4 linked regions of the Homo sapiens genome follow. The protein of the gene in region 2 purifies or fractionates together with the protein of the main gene of each other region. This does not show direct contact. Each region holds a gene or a part of one and is shown on either strand. Other genes may lie near its edges.

What was found.
Region 1: the proteins of RDH12 (region 2) and CTH purify together in Homo sapiens (affinity purification with mass spectrometry; one large-scale study listed by BioGRID and IntAct). This does not show direct contact.
Region 3: the proteins of RDH12 (region 2) and ZBTB8OS purify together in Homo sapiens (affinity purification with mass spectrometry, with the first as the bait; one large-scale study listed by BioGRID). This does not show direct contact.
Region 4: the proteins of RDH12 (region 2) and CCDC25 purify together in Homo sapiens (affinity purification with mass spectrometry, with the first as the bait; one large-scale study listed by BioGRID). This does not show direct contact.

What each region holds. Positions count from the first base shown.
Region 1 is NC_000001.11:70,427,289-70,433,335, forward strand, and holds part of CTH (cystathionine gamma-lyase), read left to right. Parts: intron 1-2,505; coding exon 2,506-2,563; intron 2,564-3,028; coding exon 3,029-3,106; intron 3,107-4,794; coding exon 4,795-4,947; intron 4,948-6,047. UniProt on the Homo sapiens protein: Catalyzes the last step in the trans-sulfuration pathway from L-methionine to L-cysteine in a pyridoxal-5'-phosphate (PLP)-dependent manner, which consists on cleaving the L,L-cystathionine molecule into L-cysteine, ammonia and 2-oxobutanoate.
Region 2 is NC_000014.9:67,707,622-67,713,668, reverse strand, and holds part of RDH12 (retinol dehydrogenase 12), read right to left. Parts: intron 1-6,047. UniProt on the Homo sapiens protein: Retinoids dehydrogenase/reductase with a clear preference for NADP. Displays high activity towards 9-cis, 11-cis and all-trans-retinal. Shows very weak activity towards 13-cis-retinol.
Region 3 is NC_000001.11:32,642,602-32,648,648, forward strand, and holds part of ZBTB8OS (protein archease), read right to left. Parts: intron 1-6,047. UniProt on the Homo sapiens protein: Component of the tRNA-splicing ligase complex required to facilitate the enzymatic turnover of catalytic subunit RTCB. Together with DDX1, acts by facilitating the guanylylation of RTCB, a key intermediate step in tRNA ligation.
Region 4 is NC_000008.11:27,765,346-27,771,392, forward strand, and holds part of CCDC25 (coiled-coil domain-containing protein 25), read right to left. Parts: intron 1-6,047.

The sequences.
Region 1 (6,047 bases), on a different chromosome or scaffold from region 2:
CTCTACCAGCTTTTTAATCTGAGGGATCTATCTCATTTTTCTTAGTCCCCTTTCCTCACCTGTATGATGAGAGCCATAAAGGTACTGATTTTATTGAGTTAGGTATTTTGTACACTGCTTCCCTGGGTTATATAAAGTACGTAGCATGATTCTCAGAAGATAATGAGATCAGAGGTGTTAGTGATTTGGTTTTTATTTTTCCTTCTCTTTTGGCTGTAGAGTTTACAGAATGTTAGCACTAGAAAAGACCTTAGGCCTCACCTACTTTGACCCCATCCCTTTAGGAACCCTAAATGAAAAGTTCCCATAGCCACCTATACTAATATCTTCCAAAGACTAAACAGCTCTAATGAGGGTGAAATAAAAACACACAGTTCTATGTTTAGGAAAATGTAAAGGGAAAGATGTTGATAATGTATGTTTTTGTTTGTTTGTTTGTTTTGAAATGGAGTCTTGCTCTGTCGCCCAGGCTGGAGTGCAGTGGCGCGATCTCAGCTCACTGCAACCACCGCCTCCCCGGTTCAAGCAATTCTCCTGTCTCAGCCTCCCGAGTAGCTGGGATTACAGGTTTCCACCACCACCCCCCGCTAATTTTTGTATTTTTAGTAGAGATGGGGTTTCACCATGTTGGCCAGGCTGGTCTCAAACTCCTGACCTCAAGTGATCCACCTGCCTAGGCCTCCCAAAGTGCTGGGATTACAGGCGTGAACCACCACTCCCGGCTTGACAGTGTTTTATTAAGTGGAAAGTCTACACTTTTCACTCTGGTTGTAAACAAATACATTTTAAGACTACAGGATTAACCTAGAGGACATTATGTTAAGTGAAATAAGCCAGGCACAGACAGACATATATAGCATGATCTCATTCATGTGTGGAATGTAAAAAATGTTGATCTCATAGAAGTAGTGAATAGAACAGCGGTTACTAGAGTCTGGGGAAGGGAGGGTGGAGGTGGGGAGGACAGAGGATGGTCAATGGGTACAAAGTTACAATTAGAAGGAGGAATAGAGGAATAAGTTTTGGTGTTCTACTGCACAAAAGGATGATCATAGTTACAATAAGATACTGTATATATCAAAATAGGAGAGAGGATTTTAAATGTTTCTACTACAAAGAAATGATAAATATTTGAGATGATGGGCATGCTAATTACCCTGCTTTTGATCATTACACAATTACACATGTATTGAGCATCACATTATACTCCATGACTTAAAGGATTAATTTACAGGAAAATTGGGTGAAAGAAAACACTTTTAAAAATTCCTTTTCATTTTTATTTTTCTTAATTCTCCCAGTTTCAGACATATTTATTTATTTATTTATTTATTTATTTGAGACAGAATCTTGCTCTGTCACCCAGGCTGGAGTGCAGTGGTGTCATGAAAAGCTCACTGCAACCTCTGCCTCCTGGGTTCAAGTGATTCTCCTGCCTCAGCCTCCTGAGTAGCTGGGATTACAGGTGCGTGCCACCATGCTCAGCTAATTTTTTTGTATTTTTAGTAGAGATAGGGTTTCACCATGTTGGCCAGGCTGGGCTCAAACTCATGGCCTCAAGTGATCCACCCACCTCAGCCTCCCAAAGTATTGGGATTACAGGTATGAGCCCCCGCACCCAGCAAATTTCTTTCTTTCTTGTTGTTTTTTAAGATAAAGTCTTGCTCTGTCACTCAGGCTGAAGTGCAGCGGCTTGATCATGGTCCACTGCAGCCTGAAACTCCTGATCTCAAGTGATCCTTCTGCCTCAGCCCCCTAAATTGCTGGGATTACAGGAGTGAGCCATTCTCCAACTCCCAGCCGTCTAGATTTCTTGTAATACCTAATACAATGTACATGCTTTATAAATGGTTGTTACACTATATTGTTTAGGAACTAATGACAAGAAAAAAGTCTGTACATGTTCAATACAGACACAACTGTTCATCTATTTTTCCAAGTATTTTTTTACCCATGGTTGGTTGAATCCATGGATGTGAAACCCACACATAGGAAGGGCTGAGTAATTAGGAATCAAGATCATGACAAACCCCAAATGTAAATAATCACAGCATACGTCATGAGGTTTTAATGATTAAAAATCTAAGCAGATGAGTTTATACTTACTCTACATAAAAATTGCTGAATGTTCATTTCAACTATTTTATGTGTTTAATGAGTCATAAAATACTAGAGTCTCTACTGTAGGTAATAAATTTAGAGTCCTGTCAGCAATTGCTATAAAGAAACAGGTTCAAGAGACCAGTTGACCTGGGCTTATCTGCGCTTTCCAAGAAACTTTTGCCTTCAGATTCAATACTGGATTCAATACTTTACATTTTTCTTTGGTGGGAGGGAGGCAAAGGAGAAATAATATCAGAGATCCTGGAAAATTTTAAGATGCACATACTTTTGCAAAGTTAGTATTGATTAGAATAAGAATGGAATTTATAATTGCAAATAGGCAGGTAATGAAGCATATTTTCAAATTGTTTCTCATTTAAAGTAAAAAACTTGTTCTTTCAGCGCCCTTTGGCTCTGGGAGCTGATATTTCTATGTATTCTGCAACAAAATACATGAATGGTAAGATGCATACTTTGAATGTTCTTTTTCATGGATAGGTGAAAATTGCATAGGGCTTGGCTTTTGATCCCTTTTCTTTGATTATTTTGTAGATTATTTCCTGTGACTCATAGAGAGAGTAAAAAAAAAAATCCTTTGATTAAATGTAGGATTTCATTAACAGTACACAAAACTATGCTCATGATTTATGAGAAGAGGATTAAAGTTGGCCATAAAAAGTTATGCTTTTATCTTGCTGACACCTTAAAGAAACATTTTGTTTTTATATAATTTTTATTTTCTTGTTTTAGACATAGCTTTTGCTACTGTCCAGTTGAATAAAGGTTACTTAAACTTATTTTATAGAGCTTTTTCCCTGAGAGTTTTTTCAAGTGAAAATCACATTTTGAAAATTATAAAATAAAGAGTAAACATAAATTGTTTCTAACTGAAATTTTTGTTTGTTTGTTTGTTTTTTGTTTTTAGGCCACAGTGATGTTGTAATGGGCCTGGTGTCTGTTAATTGTGAAAGCCTTCATAATAGACTTCGTTTCTTGCAAAACTGTAAGTATTAAAAAGTGCAGGTTCCCTATGACACTCTCAGTGACTACATTTGATATTTGTATTTCCACTAAGTGATGTGAAGTGATGGCATTCTAATAATTTATGAAGAAATGAAAAATAGAGGAGAAAAATTCTGATTTTTTTTATTTATTAATTTTTTTTTTTGAGATGGAGTTTCACTCTGTTGCCCAGGCGGGAGTGAAGTGGCGTGATCTCAGCTCACTGCAACCTCCACCTCCTGGGTTCAAGCGATTCTCCTGCCTCAGCCTCCTGAGTAGCTGGGATTACAGGTGCCCACCACCATGCCCAGCTAATTTTTTATATTTTTAGTAGAGACGGGGTTTCACCGTGTTGACCAGGCTGGTCTCAAACTCCTGACCTCAGGTGATCCACCTGCCTTGGCCTCCCAAAGTGTTGGGATTACAGGCATGAGCCACCGTGCCTGGCCAAAAAAATTTTTTCTGATTTTAGAGGAAAGTGTTATAAAAATAGTTATTGCAGGCTGGGCACGGTGGCTCATGCCTGTAATCCCAGCACATTGGGAGGCTGAGGCAGGTGGATCACTTGAGCTTAGGAGTTTGAGATCGGCCTGAGCAACATGGCAAAACCCTGTCTTTACCAAAAATACAAACCAATTAGCCAGGTGCAGTGGCATGTGCCTGTGGTCCCAGATACTCAGAGGCTGAGGCAGGAGGATTACCTGAGCCTGGGAGGCGAAGGTTGCAGTGAGCTGACATCGTGCCACTGCAATCCAGCCTGGGCAACAGAGTGAGATCCTGTCTCAAAAAACAAAAAACAAAAACGGTTATAGCATAGCAAGGCTTTATGATATGATATAAGAAATGAGTTTTTTTATTTTCATGTCCATCTTAATTATAATCATAATTTGATAAAGCCCTAGTGAATTTTTAGTTTCAAGACTTAATGGTTTTTTTTTCTTTTTTAAAATTACATTTGAAATGAGGGCTTTCATATACTATACCTTTTATATCACGAATGATGGTTAATTTTAAATAGCACTTACAGTATAAACTTACATTTTTCAATAGATGTCTAAACACCATTTCCTATTTACATTGCTTAGTTTATCTCCAGTATAGTTAAAGATTAAGCCATTGTAACTTGACAGGTAAAATATAAACATGATTAGGAATAAAAATGTCCTCCACAAGGGAAACTGAAACTTATTGCTTGATAAGTGTCCTTTGGTTTATAAAAAGTAGAAATGAAGTATATATCCTGGAGGCATGTGAAATCATTGACCGCTTTGCACAAAGGCTAAATAGAATATTAGTAGAATATTCAGTAATAATAGGACTTGAACTGCTGTTTTTCTCTGTATGTTAAAATAATTTTTCAAAGAAATACAAGGTTAGGCTATGAACAATTTATGATTTTATTAAAATCATAGAAAGGACTACTTATCTTCATATTTGAGAAGTTTATATCATTGTGCTTTTACTTAGTTTTCAGCATATTTGCTTCCCCTCATTTTAAAGTAAATTTCTCTAAGCATATTCTATGCTTTGTTCTTCTGCTTCTGATTTGATATATTATTTTCCTCCTAGAACTCAAACATTGAGCTTTACACCTAGCTTCTGAGAGTCACTGTAATGGAAAAGAGAAGCCAGATAATTTCTTGGCCATACCCTGCCTTCAAACTTATCCAGGATGTGTTCATTTTGCAGCTCTTGGAGCAGTTCCATCTCCTATTGATTGTTACCTCTGCAATCGAGGTCTGAAGACTCTACATGTCCGAATGGAAAAGCATTTCAAAAACGGAATGGCAGTTGCCCAGTTCCTGGAATCTAATCCTTGGGTAGAAAAGGTTATTTATCCTGGTATGTTAATTTGATTTCTAAGCAGATCTACTAGGATTTCAGCAGTTATCCTGAGCATCGTGTTTATGTAACATTTATTTGTAAGTTAGGTGCTTTCACGTATTGTTTTTGTTCATTTATTATTGAGCACTGCCATGTGTCAGGCTCTGTGGTGGGTCAGGTGGAAAGAAGATAGACCTGGTCTCTACTGTTGTATTGCCTCTAGTTTAGTGGATGCTTGGATAGTAGAAAATCAGTTTTATGCATTAGTTGTTCCTGTGGTGGTCTGTGATTTGAAGGCTTGTGTATACCTATTCAAAGATTTTAACATTAGACTTTTCAGTTGATTTGCTTATAATCTTGTCTGTCTGCTATTCAGCATTAGCTGTCACTTTAATCTGATAGAGGTTTGTCCCAGTTGAGACTTGATATTAGGTGCTAAAATTCCCCTGAGGTTCTCTCTCTCTCTTTTTTTTTTTTTTTTTTTTTGAGACGGAGTTTCACTCTTGCCCAGGCTGGAGTGCAATGATGCAATTTCAGCTCACTGCAACCTCTGCCTCCCGGGTTCAAGTGATTCTCTTGCCTCAGCCTCCCGAGTAGCTGGGATTACAGGTGCCCGCCACCACGCCCAGCTATTTTTTGTATTTTTAGTAAAGACGGGGTTTCACCATGTTGGCCAGTCTGGTCTCGAACTCCTGACCTCAGGTGATCTGCCTGCCTTGGCCTCTCAAAGTGCTGGGATTACAGGCGTGAGCCACTACGCCCAGCCCCCTGAGGTTCTCTCCTGTATTTCTCTCCTGTATTTTTATTCCTTCACCTCTTCCAGCATCTAGAAAGTCTTCTGTGGAGTTGGCTGACTTACATCTTACTTTTTGAATTTATTTTTACCAGTCTTTTAAGCTGTGGTGGTCCTAAGTAGTTCTTTTCTTTTTAGATCCTTTTGAGGGTTCTAGCATCTAGAATATATAGAAAAATTAAGACTGGAATTTCACTAGGAAATTCACAAGGAATTTAGAGAAACCAAAGCGAAATACATATGAAACTAAATGCCCTAAAGGTACTTTAGGTAAAGAGCTGTTGATTGATATATATTTTGGATGGAGGGAGAGAGAAGAGTTTTG
Region 2 (6,047 bases):
AAATTAACTGAGACCTGTCTCAAATTTTCTGGGTTTACATTTTGTTAACCACAAAAGGATTCTCAATGGAGATGCCCCTGACCTTTGACAAATCTCCTATCAGTGCCTGGTACCAGCATGAGCTAACTTTATGGCTCAAACCAACAGGACAATTTGCTGAGGTCTGGGAATATCCCCTCCAGAGAATCCCTGATGTCCCAAAATTTGGTCAAGATCTAAAGCTTATTTTGCTGTACATCCCCTCTTTTTTTTTTTTTTTTTTTTTTTTTTTGGAGTTTTACTTGCTTTCAACAAGAAAGGCAAGTTTTTCTGCTTCCATGACGATGGAAAGCAGGTAACTCCTTTATGGAGTTTGAGCTCACTTCCAATAGGGAAAATGAGGTTTTTTTTTGTTTTGTTTTTTGTTTGTTTGTTTGTTTGTTTGTTTTTCCTGCTTCTAGGATGGTAGAGAGTTGTTTTCAGCCTGAGACCCATCCCTAGGTATGTAGCTGAATTGAGGTTTTGTCTTGGCTAAAGTTAACAAAAAGCTGGTTTTAATTTCTGCTTACCATTAGAGTGCTCAGTGATCATATAAGTTGTGCCATTGTTTATTTCTGTTTTTATTGTTGTTTCAGTCTTTTTCCTGTTGGGTTTCATCAATTCTATCCAACTTGATCAAATCCAAAGGAAAGTTCCAAATTATGGGGAATAAGTCCTCTGAAGTGGTTAAATTCCCACACACAAAAAAGGGTGGTGTAGGAGAAAAATGGCCAGCAAAAGAAAAAAAAAAGAGAAGGGAACATTTTTTTATTTTGATTACTAAAGGGGCTTTATTTTCATAACAAGGCCACCTTTTTGCTAGCTGCCAACTGAAAGCAATGGCTGTCACCTCACCCTGTAGTTCAATAGCTAAAGTTCTGCCTTCTTTTTTTCCCTATCACAACAGCCTAGGTTTGGTTCCTAAATCAAACCCTTTCTGGTTTGATACTTGGTACTTCTGAAATAGCAGCAATTTGTCCTAGATGAAATATAGTAATGAGATTTTAAAAGATTTTTTAAAATGAGCTCAATGGTTAAAAGTCAGCTTAATTAAAAGCTAACATCCAAGGTGTGTTTGTATTTAAAAGGCCTTCATGTTTTTGTTTTGTTTTTTTCTCACCCAAAACCTTGTCTTTTTTTTTTTTTTTTTTTTTTTTGCAAGTTTTTTCTTCTCAGTTGACTGAATTCTGTTTTCTTCATTAATAGCTATTGCAACAGAGGCCACTCTGGGATTTTTAAGGAAGAATGTAGCTTAGACACTTAGAAATGTCTTTATTAAAAAACAAAAAACAACAACAACAAAATTTTTAAGTGCACTATAAAAGCATCACATGGTTTAACCTCAAAATAATTCTCCCTTTTTGGAGACCCAGGATTCAGTGTGGGCTCCTCCCAGAGCTCAGAGATCCAGTTAAAAGACAGGTAGTCCCAGGCCGGGTGTGGTGGTTCACGCCTGTAATCCCAACACTTTGGGAGGTCAAGGTGTGTGGATCACGTGAGGTCAGGAGTTCAAGACCAGCCTGGCCAACATGGTGAAACCGTGTCTCTACTAAAAATACAAAAATTAGCTGGGTGTGGTGGCACATGTCTGTAATCCCAACTACTCAGGGGGCTGAGGCAGGAGAATCACTTGAACCTGGGAGGAGGAGGTTGCAGTGAGCCTAGATCGCACCATTGCACTTCAGCCTGGGCAACAAGAGCAAAACTCCGTCTCAAAAAAAAAGATAGGTAGTCCCTATCTAAATAAAATTTGTCTCCTTATACAATCCTATGATAGATTTCTGTAATTTTGTGTTTGATTTGACATCCATCTTCAATCTCCCTCTAGAACCATCAGACTTTTTCTCTTTGTACCTTATGGTGTAAATTTTGCTATTTGACTTTTCACCTGAGTTGTTTCCTTTAATATGAAAATTTAAGGCTATTTAGCTGAGAACTGCCTAGTGTTGTGAAACAGGTTATCAAGAATCTGGAAGTCTAAGATAGGAAAGAAAAAAGGTCTTTATGAATCTATAAGATGTACTTCTATTGGCATGACTAATATGTCAATGCATTTATGTGTTGTGTACACAATGTTTCACTACTGAAAATATATAAAAGAGCTCTAATTAATTGGCTTAAAGAAAAAGAAAAGCACTTAAATCATCAAATACTTTATCAGAAAAAGGAAGACTAGTCAAATCCTTTTTCAAGTTCATGTAACTTAAGTAAAATATTTAATAAATAAGCTAGCTTTAAAATTATTGGTAAAGTAATATTAGAAATGTCTTAAGAATTGCCAGCATACATTTTTGTTTGCATTTATTAATCAAGCAATTTCATACTTATTACTGCCAAACACTATAAGGTGTCAAAATTTGGCATAGGGATTAGAAAACTATAAACTCAGACCAAAACAGAATGATCTCTGCTTGTGTAATCTTTAATAAATAAGACATTGATATTGGTTTAATAAAAATAGCTAAACCTTAAATTTAGTAAGATTACCATAACTTTAATTTTGTGGCTTTAGGTGGTCTAGTCCACAGGAAGTAAGGTTTGTTATCGTCTTTGTTTCAAAGCTAAACTATAAACTAAGTTCCTCTCAAAATTTGTTTGGCCTATGCCCAGGAATGAACAAGGACAGTTTGAAGGTTAAAAGCAAGATGGGGCCAGTTAAGTTAAATCTTTTTCACTGTCTCAGTTATAATTTTGCAATGGTGGTTCCATAATTTTAAATGATGACTATCACAGTTTTCATAAATAATCTAGGTAAACAATGAAAATAAAATAATTAGGTAAATGTAATAGAATAAATACTTGTAGACACATTCATCATAATTTAGAATCTAAAGTTATATTAAATTAGATAATAGATATTTCATTATTTGGGTATTTTCTAATAAAAATATAATTGTAGGAAAACGTTCTTTCTAAAAAAAAAAGTGTGTCCTTTAAAAAAAAGTGAAAAATTTTTGTCTAATTCAAAGCTTATTTAAAGATCATGTATAAAACAAGGTAAAAGGAACCAGGAAATAAAAGAGATGTAAAGAAAGTTATAAAAATAAAGATTTTTTTTGTAAGAAAGCTTAAAGAGAAATAATTTCATATGAAAAAGAATATTGTGTGGTAAATTTAGTCCTAGAGTAAAATGACATGACTGGTTATTTAAGAAGGAGGGATGTTCAAGACAAACTGGAAAGTCCAAGCATGTCACAAAAGGTCTATGTAAGTCACAATAAGCGGATTTATAAAACAAACAAAACCAAAAACTTTTATATGATCAAGTTGTCATATTATTATTAAGTTTTGGTTTGCTTAGGAAAAAAAGATTAAAACTTTTTTTAAATTAAGGTTACTACATCTGTGTATCTCTCTTGTGAACCCAGAAAATCTCAGACAGGTCTCAGTTAATTTAGAAAGTTTATTTTGCCAAGTTTGAGGACGAGCCCATGACACAGCCTCAGGAAGTCCTGATGACATGTACCCAAAGTGGTCAGGGAACAGCTTGGTTTTATACATTTAGGGAGACATGAGACATCAATCAATATATGTAAGAAGTACATTGGTTCAGTCTGGAAAGGTGGAACAACTTAAAACAAAGGCAGGAAGACTCTAAGTGGGGAGGGAGCTTCCAGGTCACAAATAGATAGTAAACAAACGGTTACATTCTTTTGAGTTTCTGATTAGCCTTTCCAAAGGAGGCAAATTAGATATGTATCTATCTCAGTGAGCAGAGGAGTGACTAAATAGAATGGAAGGCAGGTTTGCCCTAAGCAGTTTCCAGCTTGAGATTTCCTTAGTGATTTTGGGGGCCCAAGATATTTCCTTTCACACTCTTTATGCTCTTTTAAAGTACTTGTGACATTGAGTTACAGGGCTTTGATGCCTTGGTCTAAAAAGGACATCAAAGTCCTGCTAATTTTTTAAACACTGACAGCCATTAAAGCCCCCCATCTTCAGGCCTGGTAGAAGATGCCAATCAAAATAAACTGTATTCCTGAAACACAGGGCCAGAAATTAAAGCTATTAAACTCCTCAAGGCCCAGGGACTATCACAGAAGAGATGGGCATGTGAGATTGTGAGGGCCAATTTTAAGAGATAAAACAAGTTCTGTTTCTCTACATGTTAATCATTAATGTCAAAGGCACACTGATGCAAGACCAGCATATGGGCCCCTGTGTCAGATTAACAAGGTTTTCTTGAAGCATTAACCAACTCCTAAAGGTTATAAAGGTTATGAAAGGCTTATGAAAGTTATATCTTATGGTCAAGATTAAAATGTTATAGATTGTTTATAAAATTTTGAAAAATGAATTTAATTGGCTTCATGCTGTTTTTATTAGGGCTTATTGTTTGGAAAATTAAGTCTCCTCTCTCAAAGAATGAAGGTTTTCACCTTTTTTGGGGAAATCCTTGAGTTATCACTTTGGTTAAATGAATAACTTATTTCACAATGACCTATTAATTCTATTTTGTGATATCAAGTGTTTTAAACCTTTGATATTTGACAAACTTTCCAAAATCAAACTATAAATTATGTCTTTTTCTGACCTAATTAATCCTTTAAGATATTGTTGGGCCTGGCACAGTGGCTCACACCTGTAATCCCAGCACTTTGGGAAGCCAAGGCCAGCGGATCATGAGGTCAAAAGATCGAGACCATCCTGGCCAACGTGGTGAAACCCCATCTTTACTAAAAATACAAAAATTAGCTGGGTGTGGTGGCGCATGCCTGTAGTCCCAGCTACTCGTGAGGCTGAGGCAGGAGAATCACTTGAACCTGAGGGGCAGAGGTTGCCGTGAGCCAAGATTGCACCACTGCACTCCAGCTTGGCGACAGAATGAGACTCCCTCTCAAAAAAAAAAAAAAAAAGGTATTATTAATAGGTTCCCTAGAGTCCGAAAATGACATATTTGGCTTATTTGGTATAAAAATTATACAGGAAGCATAGTCAAATATGAAATGGTGTTTGGTTTTCTTTGGGCTGTATTTGTATAAATATGTTACTGGTATGTGTTCCAAAATCATGGGAAACTCCTGTAATTTTGGTATGACTTAGTGTACATTATCAGTAATAATTATAATTGTTATGTTAAATTATCATATGCCACAGAGATAACAAATTTCCTTGTCAATTGTTTCTTTATGGCTGCCCTAAAACCTTTCATCATCCACAGACAATTGTTGTCTTGTTTTGGTCCTCCTTAGAAGGTGGTTTTATAATCAGCTATAGAACTCTAACAGGTGTTCTTAAATGCAGGTTTCTGATAACTTTGGAGATTGTAACCTTAGAATAGAGGAAAAAACTTTCAGGACTCTCATGGAGAGCTGAAGTGTTCACGAATATCAAGCAGAACAGGATTAACTGCATAAACTAAACTGATAGAAGACTAAAGTAATATTTTTAACTTTTTGCTTAAAACGTTGCTGATCCTTTTTTTTGTTTTTCAGAGTCAAGAAAACTTTTCTTTTAAGCTATTTACAGCTTTTAGCAATTGACTAAAGTATACTCCCATGAACAAAACTTGGGGCATATTTGTGTCTCTCTGCCTAATTTCTCCAGAATTTGGAAATTATTTGTGAGTATTTGTAACTTATAACAATACAGCTATTTACGTAAGTGCAGTAAGAATCTGTTTCCATTTGTAACAGGACACAATTGGAGAAACTGGTTATTTTATCAAGACTTTGACTGGAATGGTGTGCTTTCCCTTGGAATCAAACTTGACTTCTGGAACCAAGATAGCCCCTTGGAAAAATTGGCCTCTTACCTTTATCTACACAGCCCCTGTACAGGGTTCCTGATCTGTGGTAGGTAAAGAATGTCACTTTCTGACAGGCCCAGGAGCCCCAAGTTTACCTTGGAACCTCAAGAGGAGAGGTTAACTCAATTCATAGGTATTTGATAGCACAAATCCACGGCTGGGCTCAGCTTTAAAGAAGTCTTATCTGAGATTCTTTCTACAGAACACAGTTTCATCAAAGCCAATTTAAAAGCCTATGTAAAAAATAATTATTCTTACCAGCCTGGCCAACATGGTGAAA
Region 3 (6,047 bases), on a different chromosome or scaffold from region 2:
TTTTCTTCCAGACCCTCCCAATCCTAAAGATGTTAACTAACATCTGAATAGGAAACATTTGTCTTCTATTGTCTCTAAGGGCAGCCACTATAGGACTTCAAAAGAACTTTGTTCTCCACAATCTTTTATCTTAACCAGAACATTCCCTTTCCATCAATTCTAGGTCTTTTTTTTTTTTTTTTTTTTTCAAATGGAGTTTCCTCTGTCGTCCAGGCTGGAGTGCAATGGTCCAATTTTAGCTCACTGCAACCTCCGCCTCCCAGATTCAAGGGATTCTCCTGCTCTCAGCCTCCGGAGTAGCTGGGATTACAGTCACGCGCCACCACGCACGGCTAATTTTTGTATTTTTAGTAGAGACAGAGTTTCACCATGTTGGCCAGGCTGGTCTCAAACCCTTGACCTCAGGTGATCTGCGGGCCTCGGCCTCCCAAAATGCTGGAATTACAGACGTGAGCCACCGTGCCTGGCCTTTTTTTTTTTTTTTTTGAGATAGAGTTTCGCTCTTGTTTCCCAGGCTGGAGTACAATGGCACGATCTCCGCTCACTGCAACCTCTGCCTCCCAGGTTCAAGCGATTCTCCTGCCTCAGCCTCCCAAGTAACTGGGATTACAGGGATGCACCACCACGCATGGCTAATTTTTTGTATTTTTAGTAGAGACGGGGGTTTCTCCATGTTTGTCAGGCTGGTCTCGAACCCCCGACCTCAGGTGATTCACCCGCCTTGGCCTCCCAAAGTACTGGGATTACAGATATTAGCCACTGCACTTGGCCTTTAGTTTTTGTTTTAGTTTTTGGTTTTTTTTTCTTTAAAGAGATGGGTTCTCACTGTCTACCAAGGTGGAGTACAGTGGCACAATCATGGCTCACAGCAGCCTTGACCTCCTGGGCTCAAGAGATCCCTCCTGCCTCAGCCTCTAGGTAGCTGGGACTGTGGCCCAGGCTGGAGTGCAGTGGCATGATCTCGGCTCACCACAACCCCTGCCTCCCGGGTTCAAGCTATTCTCCTGCCTCAGCCTCCCGAGTAGCTACGACTACAGGCGTGCACCACCACACTGGGCTAATTTTTTGTATTTTTAGTAGAGAGGGGGTTTCACTATGTTGGCCAGGCTGGTCTTGAACTCCTGACCTCGTAATCCGCCTGCCTCAGCCTCCCAAAGTGCTGGGATTACAGGCGTGAGCCACCATGCCTGGCCCCAGCTAATTTTTTTTACTTTTTTTTTTCTTTTTCTATTAAAAAGATGGGGGTCTCACTAGGTTGCACAGGTTGCTCAAACTCCTAGCTTCAAGTGATCCTTCCACCTTGGCCTTGTTGTACCCAAGCGAGTTAGAAAAACGCCACACTTTGAGACAAATTAAGAGTCTTTTATTAGCCGGCGACCTAGAGACGGCTAATGCTCAAAATTCTCTCGGCCCCAAGGAAGGGGCTTGATTAACTTTTATACCTTGGTTTAGGAAGGGGAGGGGGGGTCTAGTTAAAACAATTTTACGGAAGTAAAGTAGTCAAAAAGTTAAAAGGACAAATGGTTACAGGAAAGTAAACAGTTCCAGGTGCAGGGGCTTTAAGACTATTACAAGGTGATAGATCCGGGGCTTTGGGCGTTTATCAATCGGACGAATTCCTGGGAACTGCGGATATAGCTTGCCACAGTATCTTATCAGTTAATTGCATTCTTGGATGTGCTAGGAGTCAGCTTGCACAAGTTAAGTCCTTGAGGAAGGGGCTGCCAGTGAAAGAGCCAAGATGGAGTCTCTCTGGCTCTCTTAGCTAAGGGAGAGTCAATTCAGGTGGAAACAAGACTAGGTGATTAAGGGAAAAGGGAGAGTCTAAAAACAGAGTTAGTAAATACCAGGTTGGGCATTACAGCCTCCCAAAGTGTTGGGATTATAGGTGTGAGCCACTGCTTCTATCCTAAGAATGTTCTTTTCTTTTTCCTTTTTTTTTTTTTTTTTTGGAGTCAGGGACTCTGTCACCCAGGCCGGGAGTATAGTGGCATGATGATAACCCACTGCAACCTTGAACGCCTGAGCTCAAACAATCCTTCTGGCTCAGCTTCCCCAGTAGGTGCGACTACAGGACTACACACACATGCCACCACACCCAGCTTTTTTTTTTTTTTTTTTTTTTGTAGAGATGTGTTTCACTGTGTTGCCCAGACTAATCTGGAAATCCTGGGTTCAAGAAATCCTCCGGCTTAGGCCTCCCAAAGTGTTAGGATTATAGGCACGAGCCACCTCACCCAGGTGTTTAATTTACTACCACGCACTTAAAATTAAAAATAATATAATAATAAAAAGGCAGCCAGACACGGTGGCTCACGCCTGTAATCCCAGCACTTTGGGAGGCCGAGGTGGGCAGATCACGAGGTCAAGAGATTGAGACCATCCTGGCCAACATGGTGAAACCCCGTCTCTACTAAAAATACAAAAATTAGCTGGGCATGGTGGCGTGTGCCTGCAGTCCTGGCTACTCAGGAGGCTGAGGCAGGAGAATTGTTTGCACCTGGGAGGAGGAGGTTGCAGTGAGCCGAGATGGCGCCACTGCACTCCAGCCTGTCAACAGAGTGAGACTTCATCTCAAAAAAAAAAAGTCATTTTCATTCAAGAATGTCCTTAGGGCTAGGTGCAGTAGCTCACACCTGTAATCCCAGCACTTTGGGAGGCCAAGGCAGGACGATTGCTTAAGGCCAGGATTTCAAGATCAGCCTAGGCAACACGACAAGACCCCATCTCTATAAAAAATAACATAATTAGCTAGGTGTAGTAGCCAGGCATAGACAGTAGTCCCATCTACTCAGGAGGCTGAGGTGGGAGAACAGCTTGAGCCTAGGAGCTCAAGCTTGCAGTGAGCCATGACAGCGCCACTATACTCCAGCCTGGGAGACAGAGGGAGACCCTTTCTAGCATACAGTTTGGTGCTGCTGTCTCAATTTGTACTAAAGGGCCAAGAGATTTTGTTTTTGCTTTTTCTTTCACAGACAGAGTCTTGCTATGTAGCCCAGGATGGAGTGCAGTGGGGGCAATTATAGCTCCAAAAGATAGAGCCCAGCCTTACTCTGTAGCCCAGGATAGAGTGCAGTGGTACAATTATAGCTCCAAAAGACCAAGCCGAGTCTCAAACTCCTGGGTTCAAGTGATGCTCCCACCTCAGCCTCTGGAGTAGCTGGGACTACAGGCTGGGGCCAGTTTTACCAACCACTGATTTTGTACCACCAGTACAAATATCAACACAGTGAAAACAATAACACCTCAGTATTATTATGAAAATAGTTTTGACATCACAGACCCTCTGGAAGGATATAGGGAACCCCAGGAATACAGAGATTACATTTTGAGAACTATTATACTACTTATACAAGTGTACTCAGTTTCTGAAAATTCACTTATGACACGGGCACTCTTCTATAAGTACATCATACTTCAATAAAAGATGTATTTTGGCTGGGTGCAGTGCCTCACGTCTGTACTCCCAGCACTTTGGCAGGCCAAGGCAGACAGATCATCTGAGGTCAGGAATTCGAGACCAGCCTGGCCAACATGGTGAAACTCCATCACTACTAAAAATGAAAAATTAGCTGGGTATGATGGTGCACGCCTGTAATCCCAGCTACTCAAGAGGCTGAGGTTGGAGGATCACTTGAGTCCAGGAGGCAGAGGTTGTAGTGAGTCAAAGTCGCACCACTGCACTACTCCAGCTTGGGTGACAGAATGAGACTGTCTCAGGGAAAAAAAAAAAGATTTTTTTTTCTTGGTATCTAATTCCAGGTTATTCAATTAAAGTTTTTTATTTTATTATTATTTTTTTTTGAGAAAGAGTCTCACTCTGTTGCCCAGGCTGGAGTGCAGTGGTGCAATCTCGGCTCACTGCAAGCTCCGCCTCCCGGGTTCACGCCATTCTCCTGCCTCAGCCTCCCGAGTAGCTGGGACTACAGGCGCCCGCCACCTCGCCCGGCTAATTTTTTTGTATTTTTAGTAGAGACAGGGTTTCACCATGTTAGCCAGGATGGCCTCAATCTCCTGACCTCGTGATCCGCCGGCCAAAAGTTCTATTTTCAAATGTATAAAAAAAAAATTAGGAAAATTATTTTAAAATCTCAGTGGACAAGGCATTCCCTGAGTATGACTTCTTATCTTAGAAGCCATAAAAAAAAGGGTTGGCCGGGAGTGGTGGCTCATGCCTGTAACCCCAGCACTTTGGGAGGCTCAGGTGGGCGGATCACTTGAGGTCAGGAGTTCAAGACCATCCTGGCCAGCATGGTGAAACCCTGTCTCTACTAAAAAAAAAACACAAAAATTAGCCGGGTGTGGTGGTGGGCACCTGTAATCCCAGCCATACGGAAGGCTGAGGCAAGAGAATCACTTGAACCCAGGAGGCGGAGGTTGCTGTGAGCTGAGATGGTGCCACTGCACTCCAGCCTGGGAGACAGAGCAAGATACTGTCTCAAAAAAAAAAAAAAAAAAAAAAAAAAAAAAAATGCCAGGCGTGGTGGCTTACGCCTGTAATCCCAGCACTTCGGAGGCCGAGGCGGGCGGATCACCTGAGATTGGAAGTTCGAGATTGGAAGTTCGAGACCACCCTGACCAACATGGAGAAACCCCATCTCTACTAAAAATACAAAATTAGCCAGGCACGGTGGTGCATACCTGTAATCCCAGCTACTCTGTCTCAAAAAAAAAAAAAAAAAAAAATTAGCCAGGTGTGGTGGTGCATGTCTGTAGTCCCAGCTACTCAGGAGGCTGAGGCAGAAGAATTACTTGAACCTGGGGGGCAGAGGTTGCAGTGACTGGAGATCATGCCACTGTACTCCAACCTGGATGACAAAGCGAGACTCTGTCTCAAAAAAAAAAAAAAAAGAAAAGAAAGAAAGGGTCAATGCAGGGGGTCCCCAACCCCCTGGCCAGTACCAGTTGGTGGCCTGTTAGGAACCAGGCAGCACAGCAGGACATGAGCTCACAAAGCTTCTTCTATATTTACAACAGCTCCCCATTGCTAACATTACTGCCTGAGCTCCACTTCCTTTCAGATCAGGCACAGCATTAGATTCTCATAGGAGCTTGAACACTATTGTGAACTGCACATTGAGGGATCTAGGCTGTGTGCTCCTTATGAGAATCTAAAGCCTGATGATCTGTCATCCCCAGATGGGACCATCTAGTTACAAGAAAACAAGTTCAGGGCTCCCACTGATTCTATATTACAGTGAGTTGTATAATTATTTCATTATATATTACAACGTAATAATAATAGAAATAAAATGCACAATAAATGTAATGCGCTTGAATCATCCTGAAACCATCCTCCCCTACAACCCCCGTTGGTGGAAAAACTGACTTCCGTGAAACCAGTCCCTAGTGCCAAAAAGGTTGGGGACCGCTGGTTAATGAACTGCATTGCATAAAAACACTTTCTGCCTAGTAAGAAAAACCAACAACCCAAGACAAAAAAAAAATAACCCAAGAGAAAAAAGGGCTAAGAATATTAACATACACACCCCAGAATGGGAAATACAAATAGCTTCCAAAACAGTATAATATGTTCAACTTCACTTACAATAAGAAAAATACAGTAAGTATACTTTACAAATTAGAAAAGATAAAAAAGTATGGTAACAATTAGTAGAAGTGGGAGGAAAGAGGCACATTCACACAATACTAGTGAAAGTATAAATTGGTACAACTCCTATAGAGAGCAATTTGGCAATAACTGTCCAAGTTAAAATATCCTTTTAAAAAATGTAGGAGTCTTAGCAATGGAAACAAAAAAAACTTGGAGAACTTGATTCTACAGATTCACTTGCACATGTACAAAACAGTGGATGTACAAGTGTATTCACTGCTGCACTGTTTCTAATACCACAAGAGTAGAAATAGCCTAAACGTCCATCAACTGAAAATTGGTTAAAGCAAATGCTAGAACATCTAGGTATGTACATGTAAGAAAAAGGTAACGATGACTGCTCTACAGAGGGGGACTAGGTAGTTGAGGATGGGGGCTGCCAGAGTTACTTTTCACTGCCTATGTTACACTTTCTGAATTTCAAATCAATATA
Region 4 (6,047 bases), on a different chromosome or scaffold from region 2:
TGGCAAACCATGGCCCATGATCCAAATCCAGCCTACCACCTGTTTTTGGACAGCCCTTGAGCTAAGAATGGTTTTTACGTTTTTAAAGGGTTGGAAAAAAAGCAAAACAAAGAAGAATAAGCCACGGAGATTGTAGGTGACTCACAAAGCCTAAAATATTTACTATCTGGCCCCAAAAGAGAAAGTTTACCATCCTTACTAATAGCTACTTTCCTACTTTCTCAGGGTTACAGTTCAATGGTATCGCCAGTCCAGTCCTATACTTTTGCCTTCTTTAAGAGTTAAAAAAAAAAGAAAAGAAAAGAAAACTAAACACCACAACTAAGTTCCCATGTTTACCAAAGTTTTATTGTGCATAATTGTTTTTAGCCAATATTACCCATATTCCAGGTGTGCTGCATATTCTAACAGGCTCTCTATCACATTCAGGGAGACCATGACTCTCCAACTTCTAAACCAGTGACTCTGACCCCTGATCTACATTAGAATCATCTAATTATGCCCCAGCTCCACCTCAGATCAACTCAATCCAAATCTCTGGTGGGCAAGAGTGAGCATCTGTGTTTTCTAAAAGCCTTCCAAGTGATTCTAATATAAGGTCAGGGTTAGAAACAACTATCCTAACTCAAATGGAATCTTCTGGGTATGGTTTATCCTAGAAATGATATTTGCTTTACCAAGGTGGTGTTTTATTGCAGACGTCCCTACCTTGGATTCCTACTGAAAGGATAACTGAGTGCCAGGTTTCAAAGCTAGTTTACCAAAACTTGTTTGATCCAATTGGACTAAACTCCTGAATTCATAGACACTGGGCCCTCAGGCTACAAAGCCTGTGATGGAGAAGTACTGAAAAATAAATACACACTGAAGCAAAGTACTGATAAGTGCAGGGTTGGGCTGAACAGCCTGCTGGCTATCACTCCACAGCACAGAACACACACATGTACCTGGAGCCCTGAAGGACAAAGGGCAATACGCTCTCCTAAATTAAAAAGCCTTATATCAGAGAGATGCCCTGTACTTTCAGTAATGAGAAGCTTCTTAAATGATCAATCCTAGTTGCCTTTCTCGGGGGAGAGAAAACTAATTCCTTTGTTTAACATTTATAATAACTGAAGTCCAGAAGTAGTTGAGAAAAGTACCTTGAAAGAATGTGTGCATCGCCAAGTTTATAGAAATGCTTGTCTATTATTGAGCATTGTAGTACCTTGATCAGGCCTTAGTGTAGCGTGTAACAAATGCCAAAAGGGTGGGAATAAAACTAAAAAGCATTTCAGATTTTCTCTGCATGGCCTGGCAATAGTTCAAGTGTATACCCTTTCAATCCTATAACGTCACTACCTATAATGTTACCATAATAGAGTACCAAAATACTCCACCAAGCAATAATCTTTTTACAACCTAAACATCCCTTAATAGAGACTCTTTAAATATATTACAGATTTGAACATCCATAAACAAAATACCATGTACCCATTAAAAAGAAACGGCAGGTGAAGAAATTAAATATCCGAACAGTATTTTTGTGTATCTATATGATTCAATTTATAAAAAATAAATGATTATAATGGTATGTGTGTGTATATACATACACATACATGTTTTATTTTTATATAAGCACATACTTCATATGTATGGAAGCATAAACATTTTTTAACAACAGTTACCTTGGTTAGCCTGCTATAAAACATACAGATGGCTTTTGTAATTAGAACAGAATTTTCAAAATAACAATATAGGCCAGGTGCAGTGGCTCACACCTGTAATCCCAGCACTTCAGGAGGCCGCGGTGGGCAGATCACTTGAGGCCAGAAGTTTGAGACCAGCCCGGCCAACATGTTGAAACCCCATCTCTACTAAAAATACAAAAATTAGCCAGGTGTGGTGGCACACGCCAGTGGTTCCAGCTACTGGAGAGGCTCAGGCATGAGGATTGCTTGAACCTGGGAGGCAGAGGTTGCAGCGAGCCAAGATCATGCCACTGCACTCCAGCCTGAGTGACAGCAAGACTGTCTCAAAAAAGAAAAAATAATAACTGATATAAAATATTAATAAAGTTGTCTCTGCAGGCCAAGCTGTCTAAGCTACAGCCAAAATAATAATAGAGGAATGTTTTGATGGTTGACTTATTAAATGAGGTGATTAAGAAAATGGCCATAACAAACCTAAAGTGAGGGGCATTCTACAAAATAATTCAACTAACAATGCCATGAAAGACAAAGACTGAGCAATTGCTCGCGATTAGAGGAGGCTACAGAATAATGACACCTGAAGAATGCAACAATGATTTGTAAGGTATTTTTTGTTACAAATACATCATTAGGACACTAATGGGTACGGAATAAAGCCTGTTGATTAGATAATCGCATTGCTGCAATGTTAATTTCCTAATTTTGATGATGAAAAACGTCTTTTGAGAAGAGAATGCCCTTGATTTTAGAAAATAAATCTGAAGCATTCAGGGGTTAACTGCAACTTACAAACGTTTCAGGAAAAAGGTGTGTGCAAGAGAAAAAAATAGAGAAAAAGAGAAACGGAAAAAGAAAGACAAGGCATGTAGTAAAATGTCAGAATTTGTAGTCACAGTGGCTCACGTCTGTAATCCCACCACTTTGGGAGGCTGAGGCAGGTGGATTACTTGGGCCCAGGAGCTCGGGACCATCCTGGGCAATATGAGGAAACCCTGTCTCTATAAAAAAAAAATTTTTTTAATTAGCTGGGTGTGGTGGCTAAAGTGGGAGGATCACTTGAGCCCAAGAAGTTGAGGCTGCAATGATCTGTGACTGCACCACTACACTTGCCACTACACTTCGGCCTGGGTGACAGAGCAAGACTGTCTCAAAAAAAATTGGGGGACTCTGGGAGAATATACAGGAAATCTTTTACTATACTTGCAACTTCTCTGAAAGACTGAAATTATGTCATAATAGAAAATTAGTCTGGGCGCAGTGGCTCATGCATGTAATCCCAACACTTTGGGAGGCTGAAGCGGGAGGATCACTTGAGGCCAGGAGTTCAAGACCAGCCTGGCCAATATGGCGAAACCCTGTCTCCACTAAAAATTCAAAAATTAGTCAGCCGTAGTAGCACATGCCTGTAATCCCAGCTACTAAGGAGGCTGAGGCAAGAGAATCGCTTGAACCTAGGAGGCAGAAGTCGCAGTGAGTCGAGATCATGCCACTGCACTCCAGCCTGGGAGACAGAGCAAGACTCCATCTCAAAAAAAAAAAAAAAAGAAAAGAAAATGAAAAATAAAAAGGAACATCATTGCTGCACAACAAGTCTGAATTAAGTTCCTTTCCATGTTAAGAAGGAAAAGTAAACTGAATTATTCTAGTTCATTTGTTATTCTCATCTAAATAATATGGTTGATTAGTACTGGAACCGGTTATTTGGAAGACACTTGACTTACGGGTAGCAACCAACCCAACTTCAGAGGTGATCTGATTATTTCACAATTTATAGAACAATCTACTTTTAGGCAGATGATATTAACAGGTATTAAAAGTACAAGTGGACTTTGAGCCAAGTATCTATAATCAGATGGTCTTAAATGTGACACTGGACTTATTAGACTAATGTTCAATTATTCCCTTATGAGACAGCATGAAAGAATGAAAATGGAACACATTTTAGTCAGATATTAATCTTAAAATGTAAAAGAACAACTTCCTATGAAGATTTTCTTCCCATTTTAAAAAAGTTTTTATGCAGTAAAAACCATCAGTTAGTTAAAAACTTGGCAAGCCATACAAATTCATTTCCTGAAGATTCTATATATTTGTTGTTTCTATACTGCCAATATGTAAAGTCTCATTACTATTTTACTGAGAAAGTTATGATTTTTCCATTAACTTTGCAGTTTTAAAAGATCAGCTGCACAAGTGCACTTTTATTAGGCTTAGAGGCCAAATATTTTTCTAACAGGAAACAGTTCTGACATTATAATGGAAGTCAATGAAAAAAAAACAGGACCCACAAATCTAGTGAAGCATTTTGCTCTATTAAGGGCAGATGTGTATGTGTGACTAACACTTAAAGAATTCAGAGTAACTTTAAGGGGAATAGAACAGCACAAAATACATTCAGTACCTATACACCCTGCCTGTATATTTGTTTTTCCATTGTTGGGTTTATATGGATATCTATGTTGTTGAAGATTCACAACTGGAGAAGTTATAAAGAGATGCCTGAGTTGCCAAGGACGAAAATGCTTAGAGGCCTATAAGGGTATATGATTTTTCAGGCTGGTTTTGAATTTTGTTTCTAGTAATTTTAATAATATGGGTAAAACAAACCACATGTACAGAGACAGAGAAATAGCTCATGGCACACACTGTGGAAGGCTAAACTACTGAGAAAAATAAGGAGATGTCAGTGTGATGAAGGTGGAAGAGTAGGGTCTGTGAGTTACAACTTCCCTGAGCCTCAATCTTACTTCTAAAGAGAAAGTATTGCCTTATTCAAACCCACACAAACAATGTGGAACTAGTTTCACTTAAATCTTACCTTTTGGCTGAGCGTGGTGATTCACGCCTTTAATCCTAGCACTTTGGAAGGCCGAGGCGGGTGGATCACTTGAGGTAAGGAGTTCGAGACTAGCCTGGCCAATATGGTGAAACCCCGTTTCTACTAACAAAATACAAAAATTAGCCACGCATGGTGGCGTGTGCCTGTAATCCCAGCTACTTGGGAGACTGAGGCAGTAGAATTGCTTGAACCCAGGAGGTAGAGGTTGCAGTGAACTGAGATCACACCACCGTACTCTAGCCCGAGTGACAGAGGGAGACTCCATCTCAAAAAAACAAAAAACAAAACAAAACAAAAACTCACCTTTTGTAATTCCAGCACTTTGGGAGGTTAAGGTGGGTAGATCACTTGAGCTCAGGAGTTCAAGACCAGCCTGAGCAACATGATGAAACCCCATCTTTACTAAAAATACAAAAATCAGCCAGGCATGTTGGCTGGTCCCTGTAATCCTAGCTGTACCAGAATCGCTTGAACCCAGGAGATGGAGGTTGCAGTAAGCTGAGATCGTGCCACTGCACTCTAGCCTGGGTGACAAAGCAAGACTCCGTCTCAAAAATAAATAAAATAAATCTCACCTTTAGACCGGGCGCAGTGGCTCATGCTGGTAATCCCAGCACTTTGGGAGGCTGAGGCAGGCAGATCACCTGAGGTCGGGAGTTCAAGACCAGCCTGACCAACATGGAGAAACCCCGTCTCTACTAAAAAAATACAAAATTAGCCAGGCTTGGTGGCGCATTCCTGTAATCCCAGCTACACAGGAGGCTGAGGCAGCAGAATCGCTTGAACCCGGGAGGCAGAGGTTGCAGTGAGCCGAGATCGTGCCATTGCACTCCAGCCTGGGCAACAAGAGCAAAACTCCGTCTCCAAAAAAAAAAAAAACAAAAACAAAAACAAAAAACTCACCTTTAACAAGCATATAGAGTAGCAATAGAATAGAAAGTGCTATAAGTAAGTAAAAAAATGGCATTCATTTATTCAACAAGCATTTATTGAGAACTACTAACCAGTCACTACGTTAGGGAAACAAGTACAGTAGTCCCCCCTTATCTGTGGGGGATGTCTTCCAAGATCTCCAGCAGATGCCTGAAACCGAGGACAACACTGAATTCCATATATAAAGGGACTTGCCACATAATGATGCTTTGGTCAGCAACAAACCACACATACTATGGTGGTCCCATAACATTATAACGAAGCTGAAAAATTCTGATCACTATTGCCTGATGACCTGGTAGCCATCATAACAGCGTGGTGCAACTCACTTTTTCTACGTTGAGACCCGTTTAAATACACAAACACCATTGCGTTACCATTGCCTACAGCCATTCAGTACAGCAACGTGCTGTACAAGTTTGTACCCTAGGAGCAACGGTATACTGTACAGCCTACATTTGTGGTAGGCTATACCACAGGTTTAAGTATACTCTACCGTGTTGCTACAACAATGAAACCGCCTAATGGAGCATTTCTCAGAATGTATTCTTGTCATTAAGGGACGCATGGCTACTGGTATTCCC